Regions from separate parts of the Homo sapiens genome. Here region 1 is linked to region 2. The links come from fine-mapping of genetic effects on gene expression. A gene starts in region 2. The other region holds a variant in brackets. All regions are shown on one strand. Distances are between the middles of the regions. Region 1 overlaps ZNF48 (zinc finger protein 48). Region 2 holds the start of TBC1D10B (TBC1 domain family member 10B).

Evidence for each region.
Region 1: its variant is fine-mapped to the expression of TBC1D10B in whole blood (TOPMed, PIP above 0.99).

Annotation. Positions count from the first base shown.
Region 1 is chr16:30,399,550-30,407,868 of GRCh38, forward strand. ZNF48 (zinc finger protein 48) reads left to right here. Exons shown (of 3, transcript NM_001214909.2): 3 at 1-559. ZNF771 (zinc finger protein 771) reads left to right here and starts at 8,057. Exons shown (of 3, transcript NM_001142305.2): 1 at 8,057-8,115. RefSeq lists silencers at 7,781-7,960, 7,983-8,192. The variant T/C (reference allele first, on the strand shown) is at 3,102.
Region 2 is chr16:30,367,200-30,375,518 of GRCh38, forward strand. It overlaps TBC1D10B (TBC1 domain family member 10B), which reads right to left and starts at 3,295. Exons shown (of 9, transcript NM_015527.4): 1 at 2,029-3,295. The coding sequence starts at 2,984. It overlaps MYL11 (myosin light chain 11), which reads left to right and starts at 7,603. Exons shown (of 7, transcript NM_013292.5): 1 at 7,603-7,661. The coding sequence starts at 7,659. RefSeq lists silencers at 2,721-2,800, 2,891-3,180.

The DNA of each region.
Region 1 (8,319 bases), 32 kb after region 2:
TGCACCACTGATGCCTCCCAACCTTGCTCTGGGAGACCAATGCCTGAACCAGGGTTTGTTTACCTTCTGAGCTGCAGAGATGGGGCTTCTGGAATTTAAGGTAACAGGATGAGGCAGGGGTATCTTGATCATCCGGATGGGGCAAATACTGCTGTGTGGCATGGTGGTACCCACCCCTATGGAGGGGCACTCTTGGACAGAGCCCAGACCTTTGTGCCCTGGAGGGAGCCAACCCACCCTGACACGGAGACACTGGCAGAATAGACCAGAGACAGAAGGTGCTCTCATGGTATCCAGCCTGGATGCCAAGCCCAAGTCCTGGTGGATAGCAGAGGCCAGCTGTTTGGGAAAAGGGCAGGATGCTCTGAGGCCTGGCAGCCACATTTCCATGTGTCTTTTTACCAATAAACGGCTTCTCTTCTGAGGCTTGGACAGTGTGTGTGTACACACAGGCATGAAAAAGGTGGAGAGGGGTCTCTGCGCGCAAAACTCAGACTGTAAATTTTGTGTGCTTCCCTTGCTCTCTGAGCCCATTAAATAAAGAGGTTGTCTTGGCGTAGTCAGCGGCTTTCTAGCTCCGACGTCTGGTTCAAAAACGGCCGCCAGCTCCATCAGCCGATGCCCCAGGCCTGAGGTCTGGCTGCCCGCAGGCACCACCTACGCCACAGCATCCAGCGCGACCCTTAAAAGGAAAACCGCGCGGCGCTGCAGAGACAAGGCAGCAAGGAGGAGGAAGAGGGGGCGTGTGGGGGGCGTTGTTGCTATGGCGACGGCTGTCGGCGGGAGGCAGCCCACAGGTCTGGAACCGGCGTGGAAAGCCCGGACGCCGGCGCGCCGCCCACCGGGACCTGGGAAACCCGACACCCGAGACCCTTTTTATGCGTCGGGAAATGAGTCATTCGGCTGCACAGCCCAAAGGGAGGGCAAACGGTGCTCCTTCACCCCCAGAAAAGCCCGCCGGATTTCCCGGCGCCCCGCGGGGCCTGGGAAGCAGGTCTGCAATCCCTAGCGTTTTCACAACCACTGGCCTGATCGGCCAGGGATTAAAGAAAAAAGAAGTCCAGGGCGGTTCTCCCCGCTAAACAATGAAGGCAACGAAGTACAGGGTCGCAAGTTCCCGCCCCCGGCTCTCCCCGATCTCCGTGCGGAAAGAATCCCTGGACGGGTTCTCGCGAGATCGTAAGCACTGGCCTGGCTTCCCTAGAAACCGACCAGGGCTGGCTGCAGTGCGGCTCCTCCCGCTCCGCCCGCCCTTTCCAAATTGATGCGCTCTCAAAACCCTAGAACCCTGCGTTCAGGGCTGGGGCTCTTGATGGCCTGAGCGGAGCCCTTTGGGGCTTCTGGAAGTTCCTTCTTGCTGGTTTTCCTAGCTCCCTTCCCTACCAGTGTGCCCTCCAAGACGACCTGCAGTGAACTTTCTTTTCTTTTTTTTTGAGACGGAGTCTCGCTCTGTCGCCCAGGCTGGAGTGCAGTGGCGCGATCTTGGCTCACTGCAACCTCCGCCTCCCGGGTTCAAGCGATTCTCCTGCCTCAGCCTCCTGAGTAGCTGGGATTACAGGCGCGCTACCAAGCCCGGCTAATTTTTGTATTTTTAGTAGAGACGGAGTTTCACCATGTTTGTCAGGCTGGTCTCGAACTCCGGACTTCGTGATCCGCCCGCCTCAGCCTTCCAAAGTGCTGGGATTACAGGCGTGAGCCACCGCGCCTGGCCACTTTCTTTTCTTGATTTCTTTCTTTTTCTTTTTTCTTTTTTTCTCAAGACAGGGTCTCACTCACTCTGTCGCCCAGGCTGGAGTGCAGTGGCAGGATCTTCGGCTCACTGCAGCCTCCGCTCGGGTTCAAGCGATTCTCCTGCCTCAGCCTCCCTAGTAGCTGGGATTACAGGCGTCCGCCACCGCGCCTGGCTAATTTTTTTATTTTTAGTAGAGACGGGGTTTCACCATGTTGGCCAGGCTGGTCTCAAACTCCTGACCTTAGGTGATCTGCCCGCCTCGGCCTCCCAAAGTGCTAGGATTTATAGGCATGAGCCACCGTGCCTGGCCTGCTTTCTAAAATTACATCTGGCCATGTCACTCCCCCATTGAAACCCCAGTGGATCTCCACATGCTGTCCCCAAAGCCTAACTTTCATTGGCACTCAAGCCCTTCCATTTGTGTAGTTTCAGCCCTGGGCTCCTTAAATGTCGTTTCTTTTACTTGGAATGCTCCTCCACCACTACCCACCCCTTGTTAATCTCCTCTGTCAAAACACCTCAAGCACTACTTCCTCCAAGAAGCCTACTCTGACCCTCGTCTGGGTTAGTTACAATCCCCTTCTCTGAGCAACCCGTCTCTGAGCACCTAACACATGAAGAGCTTCTTGAGGATAGTTACTCACTCAACAGCTGCACCTATTGTGTGCTGCATACTGGGATAGAAAGATAAACAAGACAAAGTCCCTGACCTGTTTTTATGCGGGAGATAGACATTGAACAAATAATTACAAGTGAGGTGAGAAATGTCCAGCAAACCTATGAGCTGGAAAGAATCCTCTGTGATCCAAAGGCCTTTCCAGGCCAGGTGTGGCTCAGGCCTGTCATCCCAGCATTTTGAGAGGTTGAGGCAGGAGGCCAGGAGGCCAGGAGTTCGAGACCAGCCTGGGCAACATAGTGAGACCTCTCTACAAAAAATACAAAAATTAGGTGGAATGCACCTGTAGTCCCAGCAACTCAGGAGGCTGAGGTGGGAGGATCGCTTGGCCCCAGGAAGTTGAGGCTGCAGTGAGCCATGATCATGCCACTGCACTCCATCCTGGGCAAAAGAGCAAGATCTTGTCTCCAAAAAACAAAAACGACCCCCGCCACCACCAGAAAATACTGTAATCCCAGCTACTCGGGAGGCTTGAGGCAGGAGGATCGCTTGTGCCTGGGAAGTCAAGGTTGCGGTGAGCTGTGACTGCACACTGCACTCCAGCCTGGGGGACGGAGTGAGACCCTGTCTCAAAATATATATATATATTTCCACAAACTACTGCCTCCTTGCCAATCTGGCAAAGTCCCACTCATCTTTAGTTTTTGTTTGCTTGTTTTTTTTACAGATGAGCTCTCACTATATTGCCCAGGC[T/C]GGAATACAGTAGCTATTCACAGGCACATAGTGCACTATAGCCTTGAACCCCTGGGCTCCAGCAGTCCTCCTGCCTCAGCCTCCTAAGTAGCTGGGACCATAGGTGTGCGTCACCACACCTGACACCCACTCATCTTTCAAGGTCCTTCACAGTTACCTTCTCAGTGAGACCAGCACGAAATACCTAATACCCCCGAAAGAGTGGTTCACTTACCCCACTCTTCTCCTGCTAGAACACCCTGTTATCCTTTTCTTATATCACTCATACTGTATATTTAGAGATCTATTTTAAATCAGAAGCTTCTTTTTTTTTTTTTTTTGAGACAGAGTCTCACTTTGTCACCCAGGCTGGAGTGCAGCATGCAATATCGGCTCACTGCAGCCTCAACCTCCCAGGTTCAAGTGCTCCTCCTGCCTCAGCCGCACAAGTATCTGGGACTACAGGCACGTGCACTATTATGCTCAGCTAATTTTCTTTTTTTTGGTGATTTTTGTACAGACGGGGTTTCACCACGTTTCCCAGGCTTGTCTCCAACTCCTGAGCTCAAGCAATCCACCTGCCTCAACCTCCCAAGGTGCTAGGATTACAGGTGAGAGCCACCACGCCCAGCCCACAAGCTGCTGCTGCTGCTGCTTCTTCTTCTTCTTCTTCTTCTTCTTCTTCTTCTTCTTCTTCTTCTTCTCCTTTTCTTCTTCTTCCTCTTCCTATTCCTCTTCTTCTTCTTCTTCCTCCTTCTCCGTCTTCTTTTTTTTTTAAGACAGGGTCTTGCTCTGTTGCCCAGGCTGGAGTGCAGTGGCACGATCTCAGCTTACTGCAACCTCCACCTCCTGGGTTCAAGCGATTCTCATGCTTTAGCCTCCCAAATAGCTGGGATTACAGGCGTGTGCCACCATGCCCAGCTAATTTTTGTATTTTTAGTAAAGACAGGGTTTCGCCATGTTGGCCAGACTGGTCTTGAACTCCTGACCTCAAGCGACTACCCACTTTGGACTCCCAAAGTGTTGGTATTACAGGTATGGGCCATTGCTCCTGGCCCCAAAAACTTATTTTTTTTTTTTTTTGAGACAGAGTTTAAGCAATTCTCCTGCCTCAGCCTCCCAAGTAGCTGGGACTATAGACATGCGCTACCACACTAGGCTAATTTTTGTATTTTTAGTAGAGATGGGGTGTTGGCCAGGCTGGTCTCGAACTCCTGACCTCAGGTGATCCACCTGCCTCAGCCTCCCAAAGTGCTGCGATTATAGGTGTGACCACCGCGCATGGCCCAAAAACTTCTTTACTAGACTATGAGATCCTCAAGAACATGAACTAGATCGTATTGCAAGTAGATACCTGTACATGGTTGCAGGGCAAATCGATGGAGCCCTTTACCTTCTTTTTCCAAGTTCCTATTTAAAACAGCAGGAGGCTCCTTCCAGTAGGGACTTTCACTGCCAGAGACAGGCTCCTGGCTGAGTCTCCTCACTGATTCTCTCTTAATCAGAGCGAGATGCTTTGCTTTCGCTAGAGGTTGGGTTCTGGCCAAGTTTACCCTCTGCCTACCTCTCCTCCATCTCCCTTGCTACATTTCCCCTTGTTCACTCCCTTGGATGCTCAGATCCAGCAACACAAGTCTTCTTCCTATTCCTCAAACACACAAGCTTCTGCCTCAAGGCCTCTGCAGTTCAGTCTCAAACACTCTTCTTCCAGATTTTCAAATGGCTAACCCTTTCTCATCATTCAAGGTTCATCTCAAATATTGTATCCAGGCCGGGCGCGGTGGCTCACGCCTATAATCTCAGCAGTTTGGGAGGCCGAAGCAGGTGGATCACTTGAGGTCAGGAGTTCGAGACCAGCCTGGCTCACATAGTGAAACCCCCTTCTCTACTGAAAATACAAAAAATTAGCCAGGCATGGTGGCAGGCACCTGTAATCATAGCTACTCGGGAGGCTGAGGCAGGAGAATTGAACCCGGGAGGCAGAGGTTGCAGTGAGCCAAGATTGCGCCACTGTCCACCAGCCAGGGCGACAGCTGGAGACTCTGTCTCAAACAAACAAACAAAATATTGTATCCAGGCTGGGCATGGTGGCTCATTCCTGTAATCCCAGCACTTTGGGAGGCCAAGGCAGGCAGATCACTTGAGGTCAGGAGTTCAAGACCAGCCTGGCTAACACGGTGAAACCCTGTCTCTACTAAAAATACAAAAAAAATTAGCTGGGCGTGGTGGTGGGCGCCTATAGTCCCAGCTACTTGGGAGGCTGAGGCAGGAGAATGGTGTGAACCTGGGAGGCAGAGCTTGCGGTGAGCCGAGATCGCACCACTGCACTCCAGCCTGGGAGACGGAGCAAGACTCCGCCTCAAAAAAAAAAAAAAATTAGCTGAGTGTATGGCGCGCACCTGTAATCTCAGCTACTCGGGAGGCTGAGGCAGGAGAATCCCTTGAACCCGGGAGGTGGAGGTTGCAGTGAGCTGAGATCATGCCACTGCACTCCAGCCTGGGTGATAGAATGAGACTCCATCTCAAAAAAAAAAAAAAAATTGTATCCTGAGACACCTTCCCTGCCTGCATTAAAGAAGCCCCTGTTACCATAGCTGCTCCCTGTTGGATCATCTTGTCAGATTTGCCCCGTTGCACCTATCATTATCTGATATTATCTTCCTCTTTACATGTGTACATTTGTTTGCACCCTTAGTAGTGTCACAAGAGCCACTATTTTTATCTGTTTTGTTCACTACTACATCCCCCATACCTAGAAGGGTGACGGGTATATAGGACTCAATAAATACCCAGAGAGGCCAGGCGTGGTGGCTCAAGCCTGTAATTCCAGCACTTTGGGAGGCCAAGGTGGGTGGATCACGAGGTCAGGGGTTTGAGACCAGCCTGGCCAAGATGGTGAAACCCCGTCTCTACAAAAAATACAAAAATAGCCCGGTGTGGTGGTGTGTGCCTGTAATCCTAGCTACTTGGGAGGCTGAGGCAGGAGAATCACTTGAACCTGGGAAGCGGAGGTTGCAGTGAGCCTAGACTGTGCTATTGCACTCCAACCTGGGCGACAGAGCAAGACTCCATCTCAAAAAAAAAAAAAAAAAAAAAAAAAAACTCAGAGAATGAATGCAAAGTGGCTTTTGGGGATCCTGTGTGTGAGTATCCAGGCATTTGACCCCTTCTCCCAGCTCTGGGAAAGAGCCAGTTTTATAACTTCATTCCTGAGAGGTAATTTGGTGCAATAGAAGAGCACAAGCTTTGAATCTGCTGCTTGCCAGCTGTGTGACTTTGAGCAAATTACTTAACTTGTCTAAGCTTCCGTTTCTTCTTTTGTCCAATGGAGATATTATTGATCCCAACAGGGCTGTTGTAAAGAGACAACATAGAACTTGTAAGCACTTACTGAATGTTATTTCTGTTTTCCTTCATGATTTCTGAATCTTAGTTGCCCCATTCATAAAATGGGAAAATTAGATATCTGCTTTTTCAAGGGAAGTGGCTGTTTTTCAAAGGAAGTGGCATTTGTTTATTCCACTAAAAAAAAATCTATTTTTATATGAAATATCCCAATTTAATTTTTTTTTTCTTGAGACGGAGTTTCGCTCTTGTTGCCTAGGCTGGAGACCAATGGCATGATCTCGGCTCACTGCAACCACTGCCTCCCCAGTTCAAGCAATTCTCGTGCCTCAGCCTCTCGAGTAGCTGGGATTACAGGCATGCACCACCAAGCTTGGCTAATTTTTGTATTTTTAGTAGAGACGGGGTTTCACCATGTTGGTTAGGCTGGTCTCGAAATCCTGACCTCAAGTGATCCACCGGCCTCCGCCTCCCAAAGTGCTGGGATTACAGGCATGAGCCACCGCGCCCGGCTTTGAAACGATTTTTTTTTTTTTTTTTTTTTTTTTTTTTTGAGACGGAGTCTCGCTCTGTCGCCCAGGCTGGAGCGCAGTGGCGCGATCTCGGCTAACTGCAAGCTCGCCTCCCGGGTTCACGCCATTCTCCTGTCTCAGCCTCCCGAGTAGCTGGCACTACAGGTGCCCGCCACCACGCCCAGCTAATTTTTTGTATTTTGTTTAGTAGAGTCGGGGTTTCACCGTGTTAGCCAGGATGGTCTCTATCTCCTGACCTCGTGATCCGCCCGCCTCGGCCTCCTAAAGTGCTGGGATTACAGGCGTGAGCCGCCGTGCCCGTCCGAAAAGATTTTTTAAAAGTAAAAATACCCTAAGGGCCAAACAAGGTACCCCTGTGGACTGGATTTAGCTTTGGGCTGTTGTTCACCTAGGCTACTGATTGTCAGGGATGCTATGACATCCTTATCGTGTAACTTAGGCAAATCAGTTTACCTCCCTGAACTTCAGTGAGCTCATCTGTAAAATGGATCAGGACCCATCGTTATGCGGATCAAATGAGACCAGGTATGTAAGACGCTGAACAGCGCTGGCGCATGGTAAGCACCCCACGCATGACGCGACAGCGGTAGCTTGGGTGGATGTTGAATTGGTTAGGATGTATTCAAGGATATCCCAGAGGCCAGCGGAATAGGCGAAGCCGAGAAAGATGGAGAAAAGACGGCAGAGGAGATAAAGAGGGAATGGAAGAAGTGAGGAGGCAACAGGGTCCGCCCTCCAGGCGGGGCGCCAGGGAGAGGCCCAGGCCGGGGCGGGAGCGCACGTGGCCTATTTCGGGCGGAGCAGAGGCACTGGGCGCAGCGGAGACCTCCAAGCCGGCCCCAGGAGACGGGCCGCGAGGTTAGGTTGGAACTCGGCGGCAAGGACCTTGAACGCCGGGCTGGGGCGGCTCCAGGTGCTTGGGAGTCGGGGGACTGCGGAGGACGCCAAGTCTGAGCTCGCCGCCCTCTCCGAGCCGTTTGGGCCGGACGCCTGGGTCCTTCGGGCTCCGCCCCAGGGGGTGGGGCTATATGTTCGGACCAATGACCGGCCGTCCCTGCGGTCCCGCCCCCTCCCCGCCCCCGGAGCCGCGGCCTCGCTGAGTGCCCAGCCGCCCGGCGCCCAGGCCTGGGGCACCGCGAGTGCCGAACCTTCGGCTGGTGAGTGCGCACCCCCTCCCCGGGGTTTCCGCCCCGATCCCGCCTCCAGCCCGTGCCCCAGAGCTCCAGGTCGCCGACCCGGGCCCTGGGGAGTGACTCAGCGCAAGGATGGTGGCGACTTGCGGGGGCTGGAGATTCGAACTGTTCAAGGCCTTGAATGCTGGGATGAGTGGGGTGAACGCGAGCCCTCGGAGCTGGTCCCGG
Region 2 (8,319 bases):
CAAAACAAAACAAAACAAAACAAAAAAAACACCACCACCACCTACATCACAAAGTTATGAGAAGACTATTGAGAAACTGCATATAAACATCTGTTAAATAGAAGGGGCTCGTTAAATGTTAGTTTCCTTTGTTCTAGAAGCTCCTTAAACAGAGAGACCATCTCTCATTAATTTCTATCATAAGTCGGTTACAAACTCTACCAAGGGCTGGGAAGAGTAAGATACCTTCTGGCCCTCAAGAAGGTTACAGCCTAAGAGGAGCGATAACTGTAATACAGCATGGGAAATGCAATGACAAAGATGCACCAAAGACACATCTAATTGGAGTGGGGGCAGTGGGTATCAGGGAAGCTTCCTGGAGGAGGGGACATCTGAGGTAAGCCATGAAGAAATGAGTAGAACTTAGCAGGCAAAGAAAGGGGAGAAGAGCACCCTTGGCAGGTGCACAGCCTGAATATGAAGGGGAAAGGACTACAACTAGTTCAGCAGGACCACAGCGCAAAGCACCCGGTGAGGAATGGTGGCAAAGGTGACCAGAGAGGCTATGCGCAGGCCAAAGAGCCTGAACTTCATCCTGTGGACAGCAGCGAGCCACTGAACGCTGCGAAAGTAACATGGATTACAGTCAGTCTTGCCCAAGAGGTAGAGTTCTCTGGCATTGAAGCTGATCTTACAGGGACAAAGCTACAAAGCAAAGAAACAGCACCCGGCATAGTGCCTGGCACACAAGAGGGACTCCCCCAAACTAAGTTCAGCCCGAGTTCCTCAGGACAGCCTGCTATTGAGGAGAGAGCCACTGGTCACACAGATCCAGATTATTTGAGGGGGACAATTCACTCAACTGCACTAATTGTTTCTTCATCTATAAACCGAGTCCTTGTGCCTAGAAAGCACCAGGGTCAAACCTCAGTTGCTTTCCCATGTAAGACCCTGAATGTTGGTACCCAATCAAAGGCTTTCTGATTTTGGTTGGCTCATGAACCCTGCCTGGAAAACTCTCCCACAGGGCTTCCCCCGATCCCTGCACACATAGCCAAGACTAAATCAATCCTACTTACTCTCCACGATTCAGAGCAGGTTCAGCTGACTCCCTGCTCTAGGTGCCTCAGGAAACCCTCTGGAGATCTCTAGGCTAAACCCGAGGTCTTCTATTGAAACCAACTGTTTAAGTACTTTTCTTTCTCTCCAGATGATTGGCTCCTTGAAAGGACTATTTTATCCTTAGCACCTGGGGCCTGACACCTGGGGGCCCAGGAGATGCTGTAGGCTGACTGGCCCAGCAGGTCAAAGGGGCACAGGAACAACGGGCAGGATCCAGAGAGGGGGAAGGAAGAAGTCAGAGGCAATCACCCCCTACCTCGGGAGTGACTCAGGCCCCGGAGAGAACTAGGAAAGAGTCAGCCCGGCTGGGGAGATGAGGAAATGGGGAAGAGGCCTCTCCCACCCTTTACTTCAGTGCAGATACAAGACTGCCCTGTTTCACAGCGGGATCCTGACTGCACAGTCTCCCTTCCATCAGCCAGACTTCCCCACCTCTCTACTCCATCCCTGGGACCTAGGGCTATGGGGGAAGGGAGATGCCTGCACCCCTCCCAGGCTATCCACCCTAAGGGACCAAGGGTCTCTACCAGAACCCTCGCCCAACCAACCCTCCAGAATATCCGGCCTGTAGCTGGAGTTCCCCATCAAAGAGCAGGGATGACCTCAGGTATCATCTCATTCAATCCACTTTATAGAGGAAAAAACTGAGGCACGGAAATGGGGAAGCCACTAGCTCAAGGGCACACAACCCATCAAAGGCAAGGCTTAAACCCAGACCTCTTGACCCCTGGTCTGAAACTCCACTAACATGCCAATGTCACAGGCACCTCAGGATGCTCAAGACACGGCAGCTCGCGCTGATCACCCCGTGGATCCTCAGAGGAGGCTGGGCTGCCAGAGTCTGGGCAAAGTGTATCGTTTTCGTTTCGCCCTCCCCCAACCTTTGCTTCCCCGAGGCGGTCCCGCTGGGTGCCCACTGGTACTCACAGGCTGCCCGAGTACTGGCTGCCCCCAAGGAAGCCATACTTGTCCGTCTTGCGCAGGGCCAGCCCGTTTATCTCTGAATCTGAGCCCATGGAGCTCACATCATCCGCCAAGGACTCCAAGGTCCCAGACATGAGGCTCACGGAGTCCAAGTAACTCAGCGTGTCCGGGGCCTGCCCTCGAGGCCCAGAGATGCCAGGTCCCAGGCTGGACGTGGAGCCCAGGTCTTGAGAGTTTTCAGCAGGCTCCGGAGCTGGGGTCACGGTCACGACAGCTACCGGAGCCTCACAAGTCCCAGAGGGGCCTGTGCCAGGGCCTGAGGGGTCCTCAGGAGCCTGTCCTGCTGATGCTGATGTTGCTGCGGCAGCTCCATGCCCACCTGTCACTTGTCCTGATGCACTCCGTGCAGTCACTCCTGAGGCCACTGTGGTTCCCGGCTTGGGGGCAAGCGGGGGTTTGGCGGTCAGGGCACCAGGAGCCGTTCTGGAAGGGGTCCTGGTAGGGGTCCCGGTGGGGGTCCCTGGTCCTGGGGCGGGTGAGGGTCGAGCCTCCTCTGTCTTCGGCGAGTCTGCCCCTGCGGCCAGAGCCCTCGATGTCTCAACTCCAGCCACTGCCGCGGGCTCTGGGGATTCCGGGCCGGAGGGGAGCTGCGGCTTTGGGGCTTCGGGCGAGGCCTCCAGGGTCAGCACCACCACCGTGCTGCCCGTGACAGCCGGGGCTGGGGCCGGGGCTGGGGCCGGGGCCGGAGCAGAGGTCTCGGCCGACCCCGGGACCCAGGCGGGCCGCGCCTCCCCGGGGGCCACCAGGGTGACGGGGGCCGAAGTGGCCGTAGTCACTGGAGGTCCCGGAGCCACCACCACGACGGGCCCGGCCCGGGAACCCCGGGGCGGCGGCGAGGGGGCCGCGGGGGCGCCATGACGGCGCGGCGGGGCCACCAGGGGCGCCGTGCCCGTCTCCATGGCCGCGGGCCGCCCCTCACATCCCCCCGCCGGGGAGGCCGCAGAAGGCGCCGCCCCTCGGGCCTCCCGGCGAGGCCAGCCGAGAAAGGGGAGAGGGCGAAGGGCGCGGCTCGGCGCGCGCCGGGGGCGGAGCGGCCGCTGGGCGCGCAGAGGCGGGGCAGGGGTCGGGGGGCGCCGCGCGCCGGGGTCTCTCTCGAGCCCTCTCACCCCCTCGCGCGCTCTCGCCACCGCCCCCTCCCTCCTGCTTGGGGGCGAGCCGCCGACCTCGCGCCTGCGCACACGCCGCAGAGCCGGCTCCGCGCCAGCGTCTCGGCGTTCCACGCCTGCGCGCGGACTGGCTCATCGCGCTCCTTTTTTCTCCCGCCTAGTCAGAGGATTTGGACGAATAGTGGGAGAGAGAGAACTGGGCTTCTGCCAATCGTTGGAATCGTGGGCGGGGCTGGAGGCGAAAAAGGGGTGGGTCATCTGGAAAGAGGAAACGGAGAAAGCTAGGGCTGTAAGACCAATCAGAGGACGAGGAAAGGCAGGGGGCGATGGGACGAAAGAAATAACCAATAGAAACGCAGGGGTCTGAACCTCCTGGCCAATGAATATGACTGAAGGGTGAATGACCGCGGAAGGGCGGAGGAGGAGGCAGGGCTGTGCGAGTAAGAGGTGGGGCCTGGAGGCTTCTTAACCAATAGGAATGGTAAAAAGGGAGCCAATGAAAAGGGGAGCAGGTGGAGGTCAAATTGACAGGCAGTGATGTCTATTTAGGCGGTGACAGACAGCATCCGCAGTCAATAGGAAGAGCTGAAGAATTCTTTAGGTCTCCCAAAATGGTCAGTAAGGAATGACAGCTGGGAGGAGGCGGGGCAAGCTAGAGATTAATTCGCCCCGTCAGCCAATGATCGTGTTCTCCCACTTTGGCCACAGGACAGGAAAATAGATAGCTGTCTCAGCCAATGGGAGCATCCAAAGGGCAAAGATGCTGCCAGCAGGCGGTGCCAGCCCAGGGATAGTCGGTGACAACCGGAGACAAGCCTTATGGGAGGGTGACAGCTGGGGACAGCACGGAGAAGGGGCGGGGGCATTAGTGCAGCCCTCAACCAATGAGTGCCGCGCTGCCCCCTCTCGAGTCCTTTCCGGTCCCCTATTCTTCGTTCAGCTCCTGAGCCCCACACTCTGGTGGTCTGTGGGACCCTGAGCCCCACCACAGATCCAGTGCCCTGACCCAGTACTCTCATCCTTTACTCTATAATTCTCCGATCTCGGCCCCCAACTAACCCCAACACTCCAGGCCCAGGTGGCAATAGCCAGAGCCCCCAGATCCTATAAGCAACCCATATCTCTGCTTCACCCATTTCCTGCGGGAATCCCAACCTCCAAGTCCCTCTCCTCAGTTCCCATCTATCTGAGCTCCTCCCCAGAACCCAGGCTCCAGTTCCTCAGACCTTATCCCTCTGAGTACCCCCTCCATTTCTTCTAGTGGGGATCTCAAACCCCAAATCCATGAATCCCTAATACCATGAACTCCCCATATGTGTGTTACTATTCTTTTGGGGATCCAAGGCCCCAGTCCCGTCAACCCCTCTCCCCTCACTGCCACATCCCTCTGTGCTCCTCATGTTCCACTGAGAATCCCGACCTCAATCTCATGAGCGCTCCAGGTTGTCCTTAGATCACAAGCATAAAGACCTGACGTTATGAGCTCCAACCTTCCAACTTCTAAACGCCCTCTTCTTTCTCTGACCCCCATATTCTGATTTCCATATAGCATCCACCATCCTGGAATTCCAGTGAGACCTAGCTCCCGACTTCTCAGCTCCTCCTTGGTTTCTGAGTCCTCTAAGGTCCCTCACTCCCAACTCAGCCCCATGTCCTGTCAATTCCCACTCAGTGTCTGATCTCCTTCTCCTCACCTTTCCCATCTCCCGTTTGACCCAAGCTTCCTGAGCTCTCCTCCCATTCCCCTTTTTGGAGTCCTCCTCCTCTCCCAGAACCCAGTAATAAGTGGGCTCCTCCCTGGCCTGGACCCCCGTGGTAACCCTATAAGGCGAGGCAGCTGCTGTCTGAGGCAGGGAGGGGCTGGTGTGGGAGGCTAAGGGCAGCTGCTAAGTTTAGGGTGGCTCCTTCTCTCTTCTTAGAGACAACAGGTGGCTGGGGCCTCAGTGCCCAGAAAAGAAAATGTCTTAGAGGTATCGGCATGGGCCTGGAGGAGGGGGGACAGGGCAGGGGGAGGCATCTTCCTCAGGACATCGGGTCCTAGAGGGAGCGGGAGGAGAAGGAGATGGTTGTCCTTGCCAACTTGGGGCTTCCTCAGCCACTATTTTTCCAGACTTCTGCTGCATGGAGGGGACTGGGTCACTGAGGCCCAGAGGGAGAAGAGAGGGTACATCAAAGTCACACAATCAGCCAAGCTGGCTCTTGGCCAGAATAAAGTGAGCTGCCACTGGCTATCAAGGCACCTCACAGAAAGTGACCAGCTGGCTGTCCTTTTAGGGTCTTTTCCTCCCCTCTTGAGTTCCAGCCTCCACACCAGTACCCAGAGAAAATATTCTAGACTCATACTAGATCACATCCTTCTTCTGCATGAAACCTTTCCAAGGTTCCCCAGGGTCTCCGTCCTGTGCCTGGCAAAGGCCCCTCAGGGGCTGGTCACCAGCCCCATCACAATTCTGGCCACCTGAACACTTCTGATCTTCCGCTCTCCAGGCCTTTGCTCAGGCCATGCCCTCCGCCCAGCACATCTGCTCCTCCACCTGCACCTGACTCCCTGGCCCTCGTGAAGCCACTCCCATACTCCTAGACAGGGCTGCTGCGCCCTCCACTTCTGGGCTCCTGACCAGCTCTGGTATGTCAGTTTCTGCATTCATTCCTGTCTCTATTAGTTATAAGGCAAGTTCTGTGGGATGGGAACTACATCTCCCTTTTACAGAGGGGAAACCAAGGCCCAGCACAAAACCTGAGACCACAAAGCATCTTGCCTCAAAAAATCCCTCTTGGCTCGGCGCGGTGGCTCATGCCTGTAATCCCAGCACTTTGAGCACTTTGGGAGGTCGAGACGGGTGGATCATCTGAAGTCGGAATTCAAGACCAGCCTGGCCAACATGGTGAAACGCCATCTCTACTAAAAATACAAAAAATTAGATGCCGGGCACGGTGGCTCACGCCTGTAATCCCAGCACTTTGGGAGGCCGAGGCAGGCAGATCACAAGGTCAGGAGATCGAGATCATCCTGGCTAACGCGGGGAAACCCCGTCTCTACTAAAAATACAAAAAAATTAGGCGGGCGTGGTGACACGCGCCTGTAGTCCCAGCTACTCGGGAGGCTGAAGCAGGAGAATCACTTGAACCCGGGAGGCGGAGGTTACAGTGAGCCAAGATCACGCCACTGCACTCCAGCCCGGATAACAAAACGAGACTTCATCTCAAAAAAAAAAAAAAAAAGTAGCTGGGCATGGTGGCGGGTGCCTGGAATCCCAGCTACTCAGGAGGCTGAGGCAGAAGTATCGCTTGAACCCAGAAGGCGGAGGTTGCAGTAAGCCGAGATCGCACCATTGCACTCCCACCTGGGTGACAAGAGCAAGACTCCATCTCAAAAAAAAAAAAAAAGAAAGAAAAGAAAAAAAAATTCCCCTCTCCTTGAAGGGAGGTAGGAGACCCACCTGATCCCTCAGCTTCCACAGATGGCTCTTTCTCACCACCCTCACACTTACACACACTTGACTATGAACTCCACCATGTGGGGGTGGAGGGATTGTGTCTGCCAAAGTACATCCACAAAGCCCAGCCTAGCACGTGGCACACTGTGTGTGTTCAATACATGTTTACTGGGTTTATTTTATTAATTTAAAATAGAGACGGGGGCCAGGCGCAGTGGCTCACACCTGTAATCCCAGCACTTTGGGAGGCCTAGGTGGATGGATCACCAGGTCAGAAGATTGAGACCACTCTGGCCGACACGGTGAAACCCTGTCTCTACTAAAAATACAGAAAAAAAAAATTAGCCTGGCTTCGTGGCACACCTATAATCCCAGCTACTCGGGAGGCCAAGATAGGAGAATCACTTGAACAGGGGAGGTGGAGGTTGCAGTGAACCGAGATCACACTACTGGCACTCTAGCCTGGGAGACAGAGCGAGACTGTCTAAAAAAAAAAAAAAGGGAGACAGGGGTCTCACTATGTTGCCCAGGCTGGTCCTGAACTCCTGGCCTCAAGCAATCCTCCTGCCTCAGCTTCCCAAAGTGCTGGGATTACAGGTGTGAACCACTGCACCCAGACGTTTACTGGGTTTAAATCTGAGCCCACCCCACTCAGGGGTACAGGATCTGGTTCATTTATCTCCCAGAATGATGCCTTGGGTTGCGTCCCCTCTAAACTCTGGCACATTCCAGCCCCTCTTTGGGAGAAAGAACATCTCTTCTTGCCCAGGCCCTAGTGAGACATGCATCGCAAGACATGCTCCCCCCTTCCTCCCCGCTGGGCTCCAGCTGCTGCCAGCCCTCCAAGAAAGGAGAGGCCCTGAGTTGGGCTATTTTGGTATCTGGGGTGGGCACCCGCAGGGCTAAGGTTACCTTGGTATGTTAAGGGCTCCCTGGGGCAGGACTATATAACCCCAGAGGGACTGCCCCATGCTGACTCCTTGCTTCTTTCCAGCCGGAGCCGCTGCCTTGCCCCCCGGAGACTGAAGACATGGTGAGTGAGAATCCTCCAACCCCTGCCCAGATCCCTTAGACCTCAGGGCAGCCTCACCCTTTGAAAGAAAGTAGCTGGTTCCCAGTCCAACAAAAAGTTAAAAGGATGCTCATCTCTTTCTCGGCATCACTGATGGAAAACAGACTGTGTGATGGCCTAAAGGATCCAATCAATGATAATCCGCCCAGACATTCAACTCACAGGGGCCCAGTCCCTCTCAAAGCCTGATCCATTCATTCCTGTACTCCATCTTCCTAAGGCCCTCTGGCACCAGCCAGGCAATAACTCCCATCCCATTTTACAAATGAGAAAGTAGAGGCTCAGGCCAGGTGCTGTGGTTCACGCCTGTAATCCCAGCACTTTGGGAGGCCAAGGTGGTTGGATCACTTGAAGCCAGGAGTTCGAGACCAGCCTGGCCAACAGGCGAAACCCCGTCTCTACTAAAAATACAAAAATTAACTGGGCGTGGTGGTGCATGCCTGTAATCCCAGCTACTACGGAGGCTGGGGCATAAGAATCGCTTGAACCCGGGAGGCAGAGGTTGCGGTAAGCCGAGATCGCAGCACCGCACTCCAGCCTGGGTGACAGAGCAAGACTCTGTCTCAAAAAAAAAAAAAAAAAGAAAAGAAAAGTAGAGGCTCAAACAGGGCAAATGAGT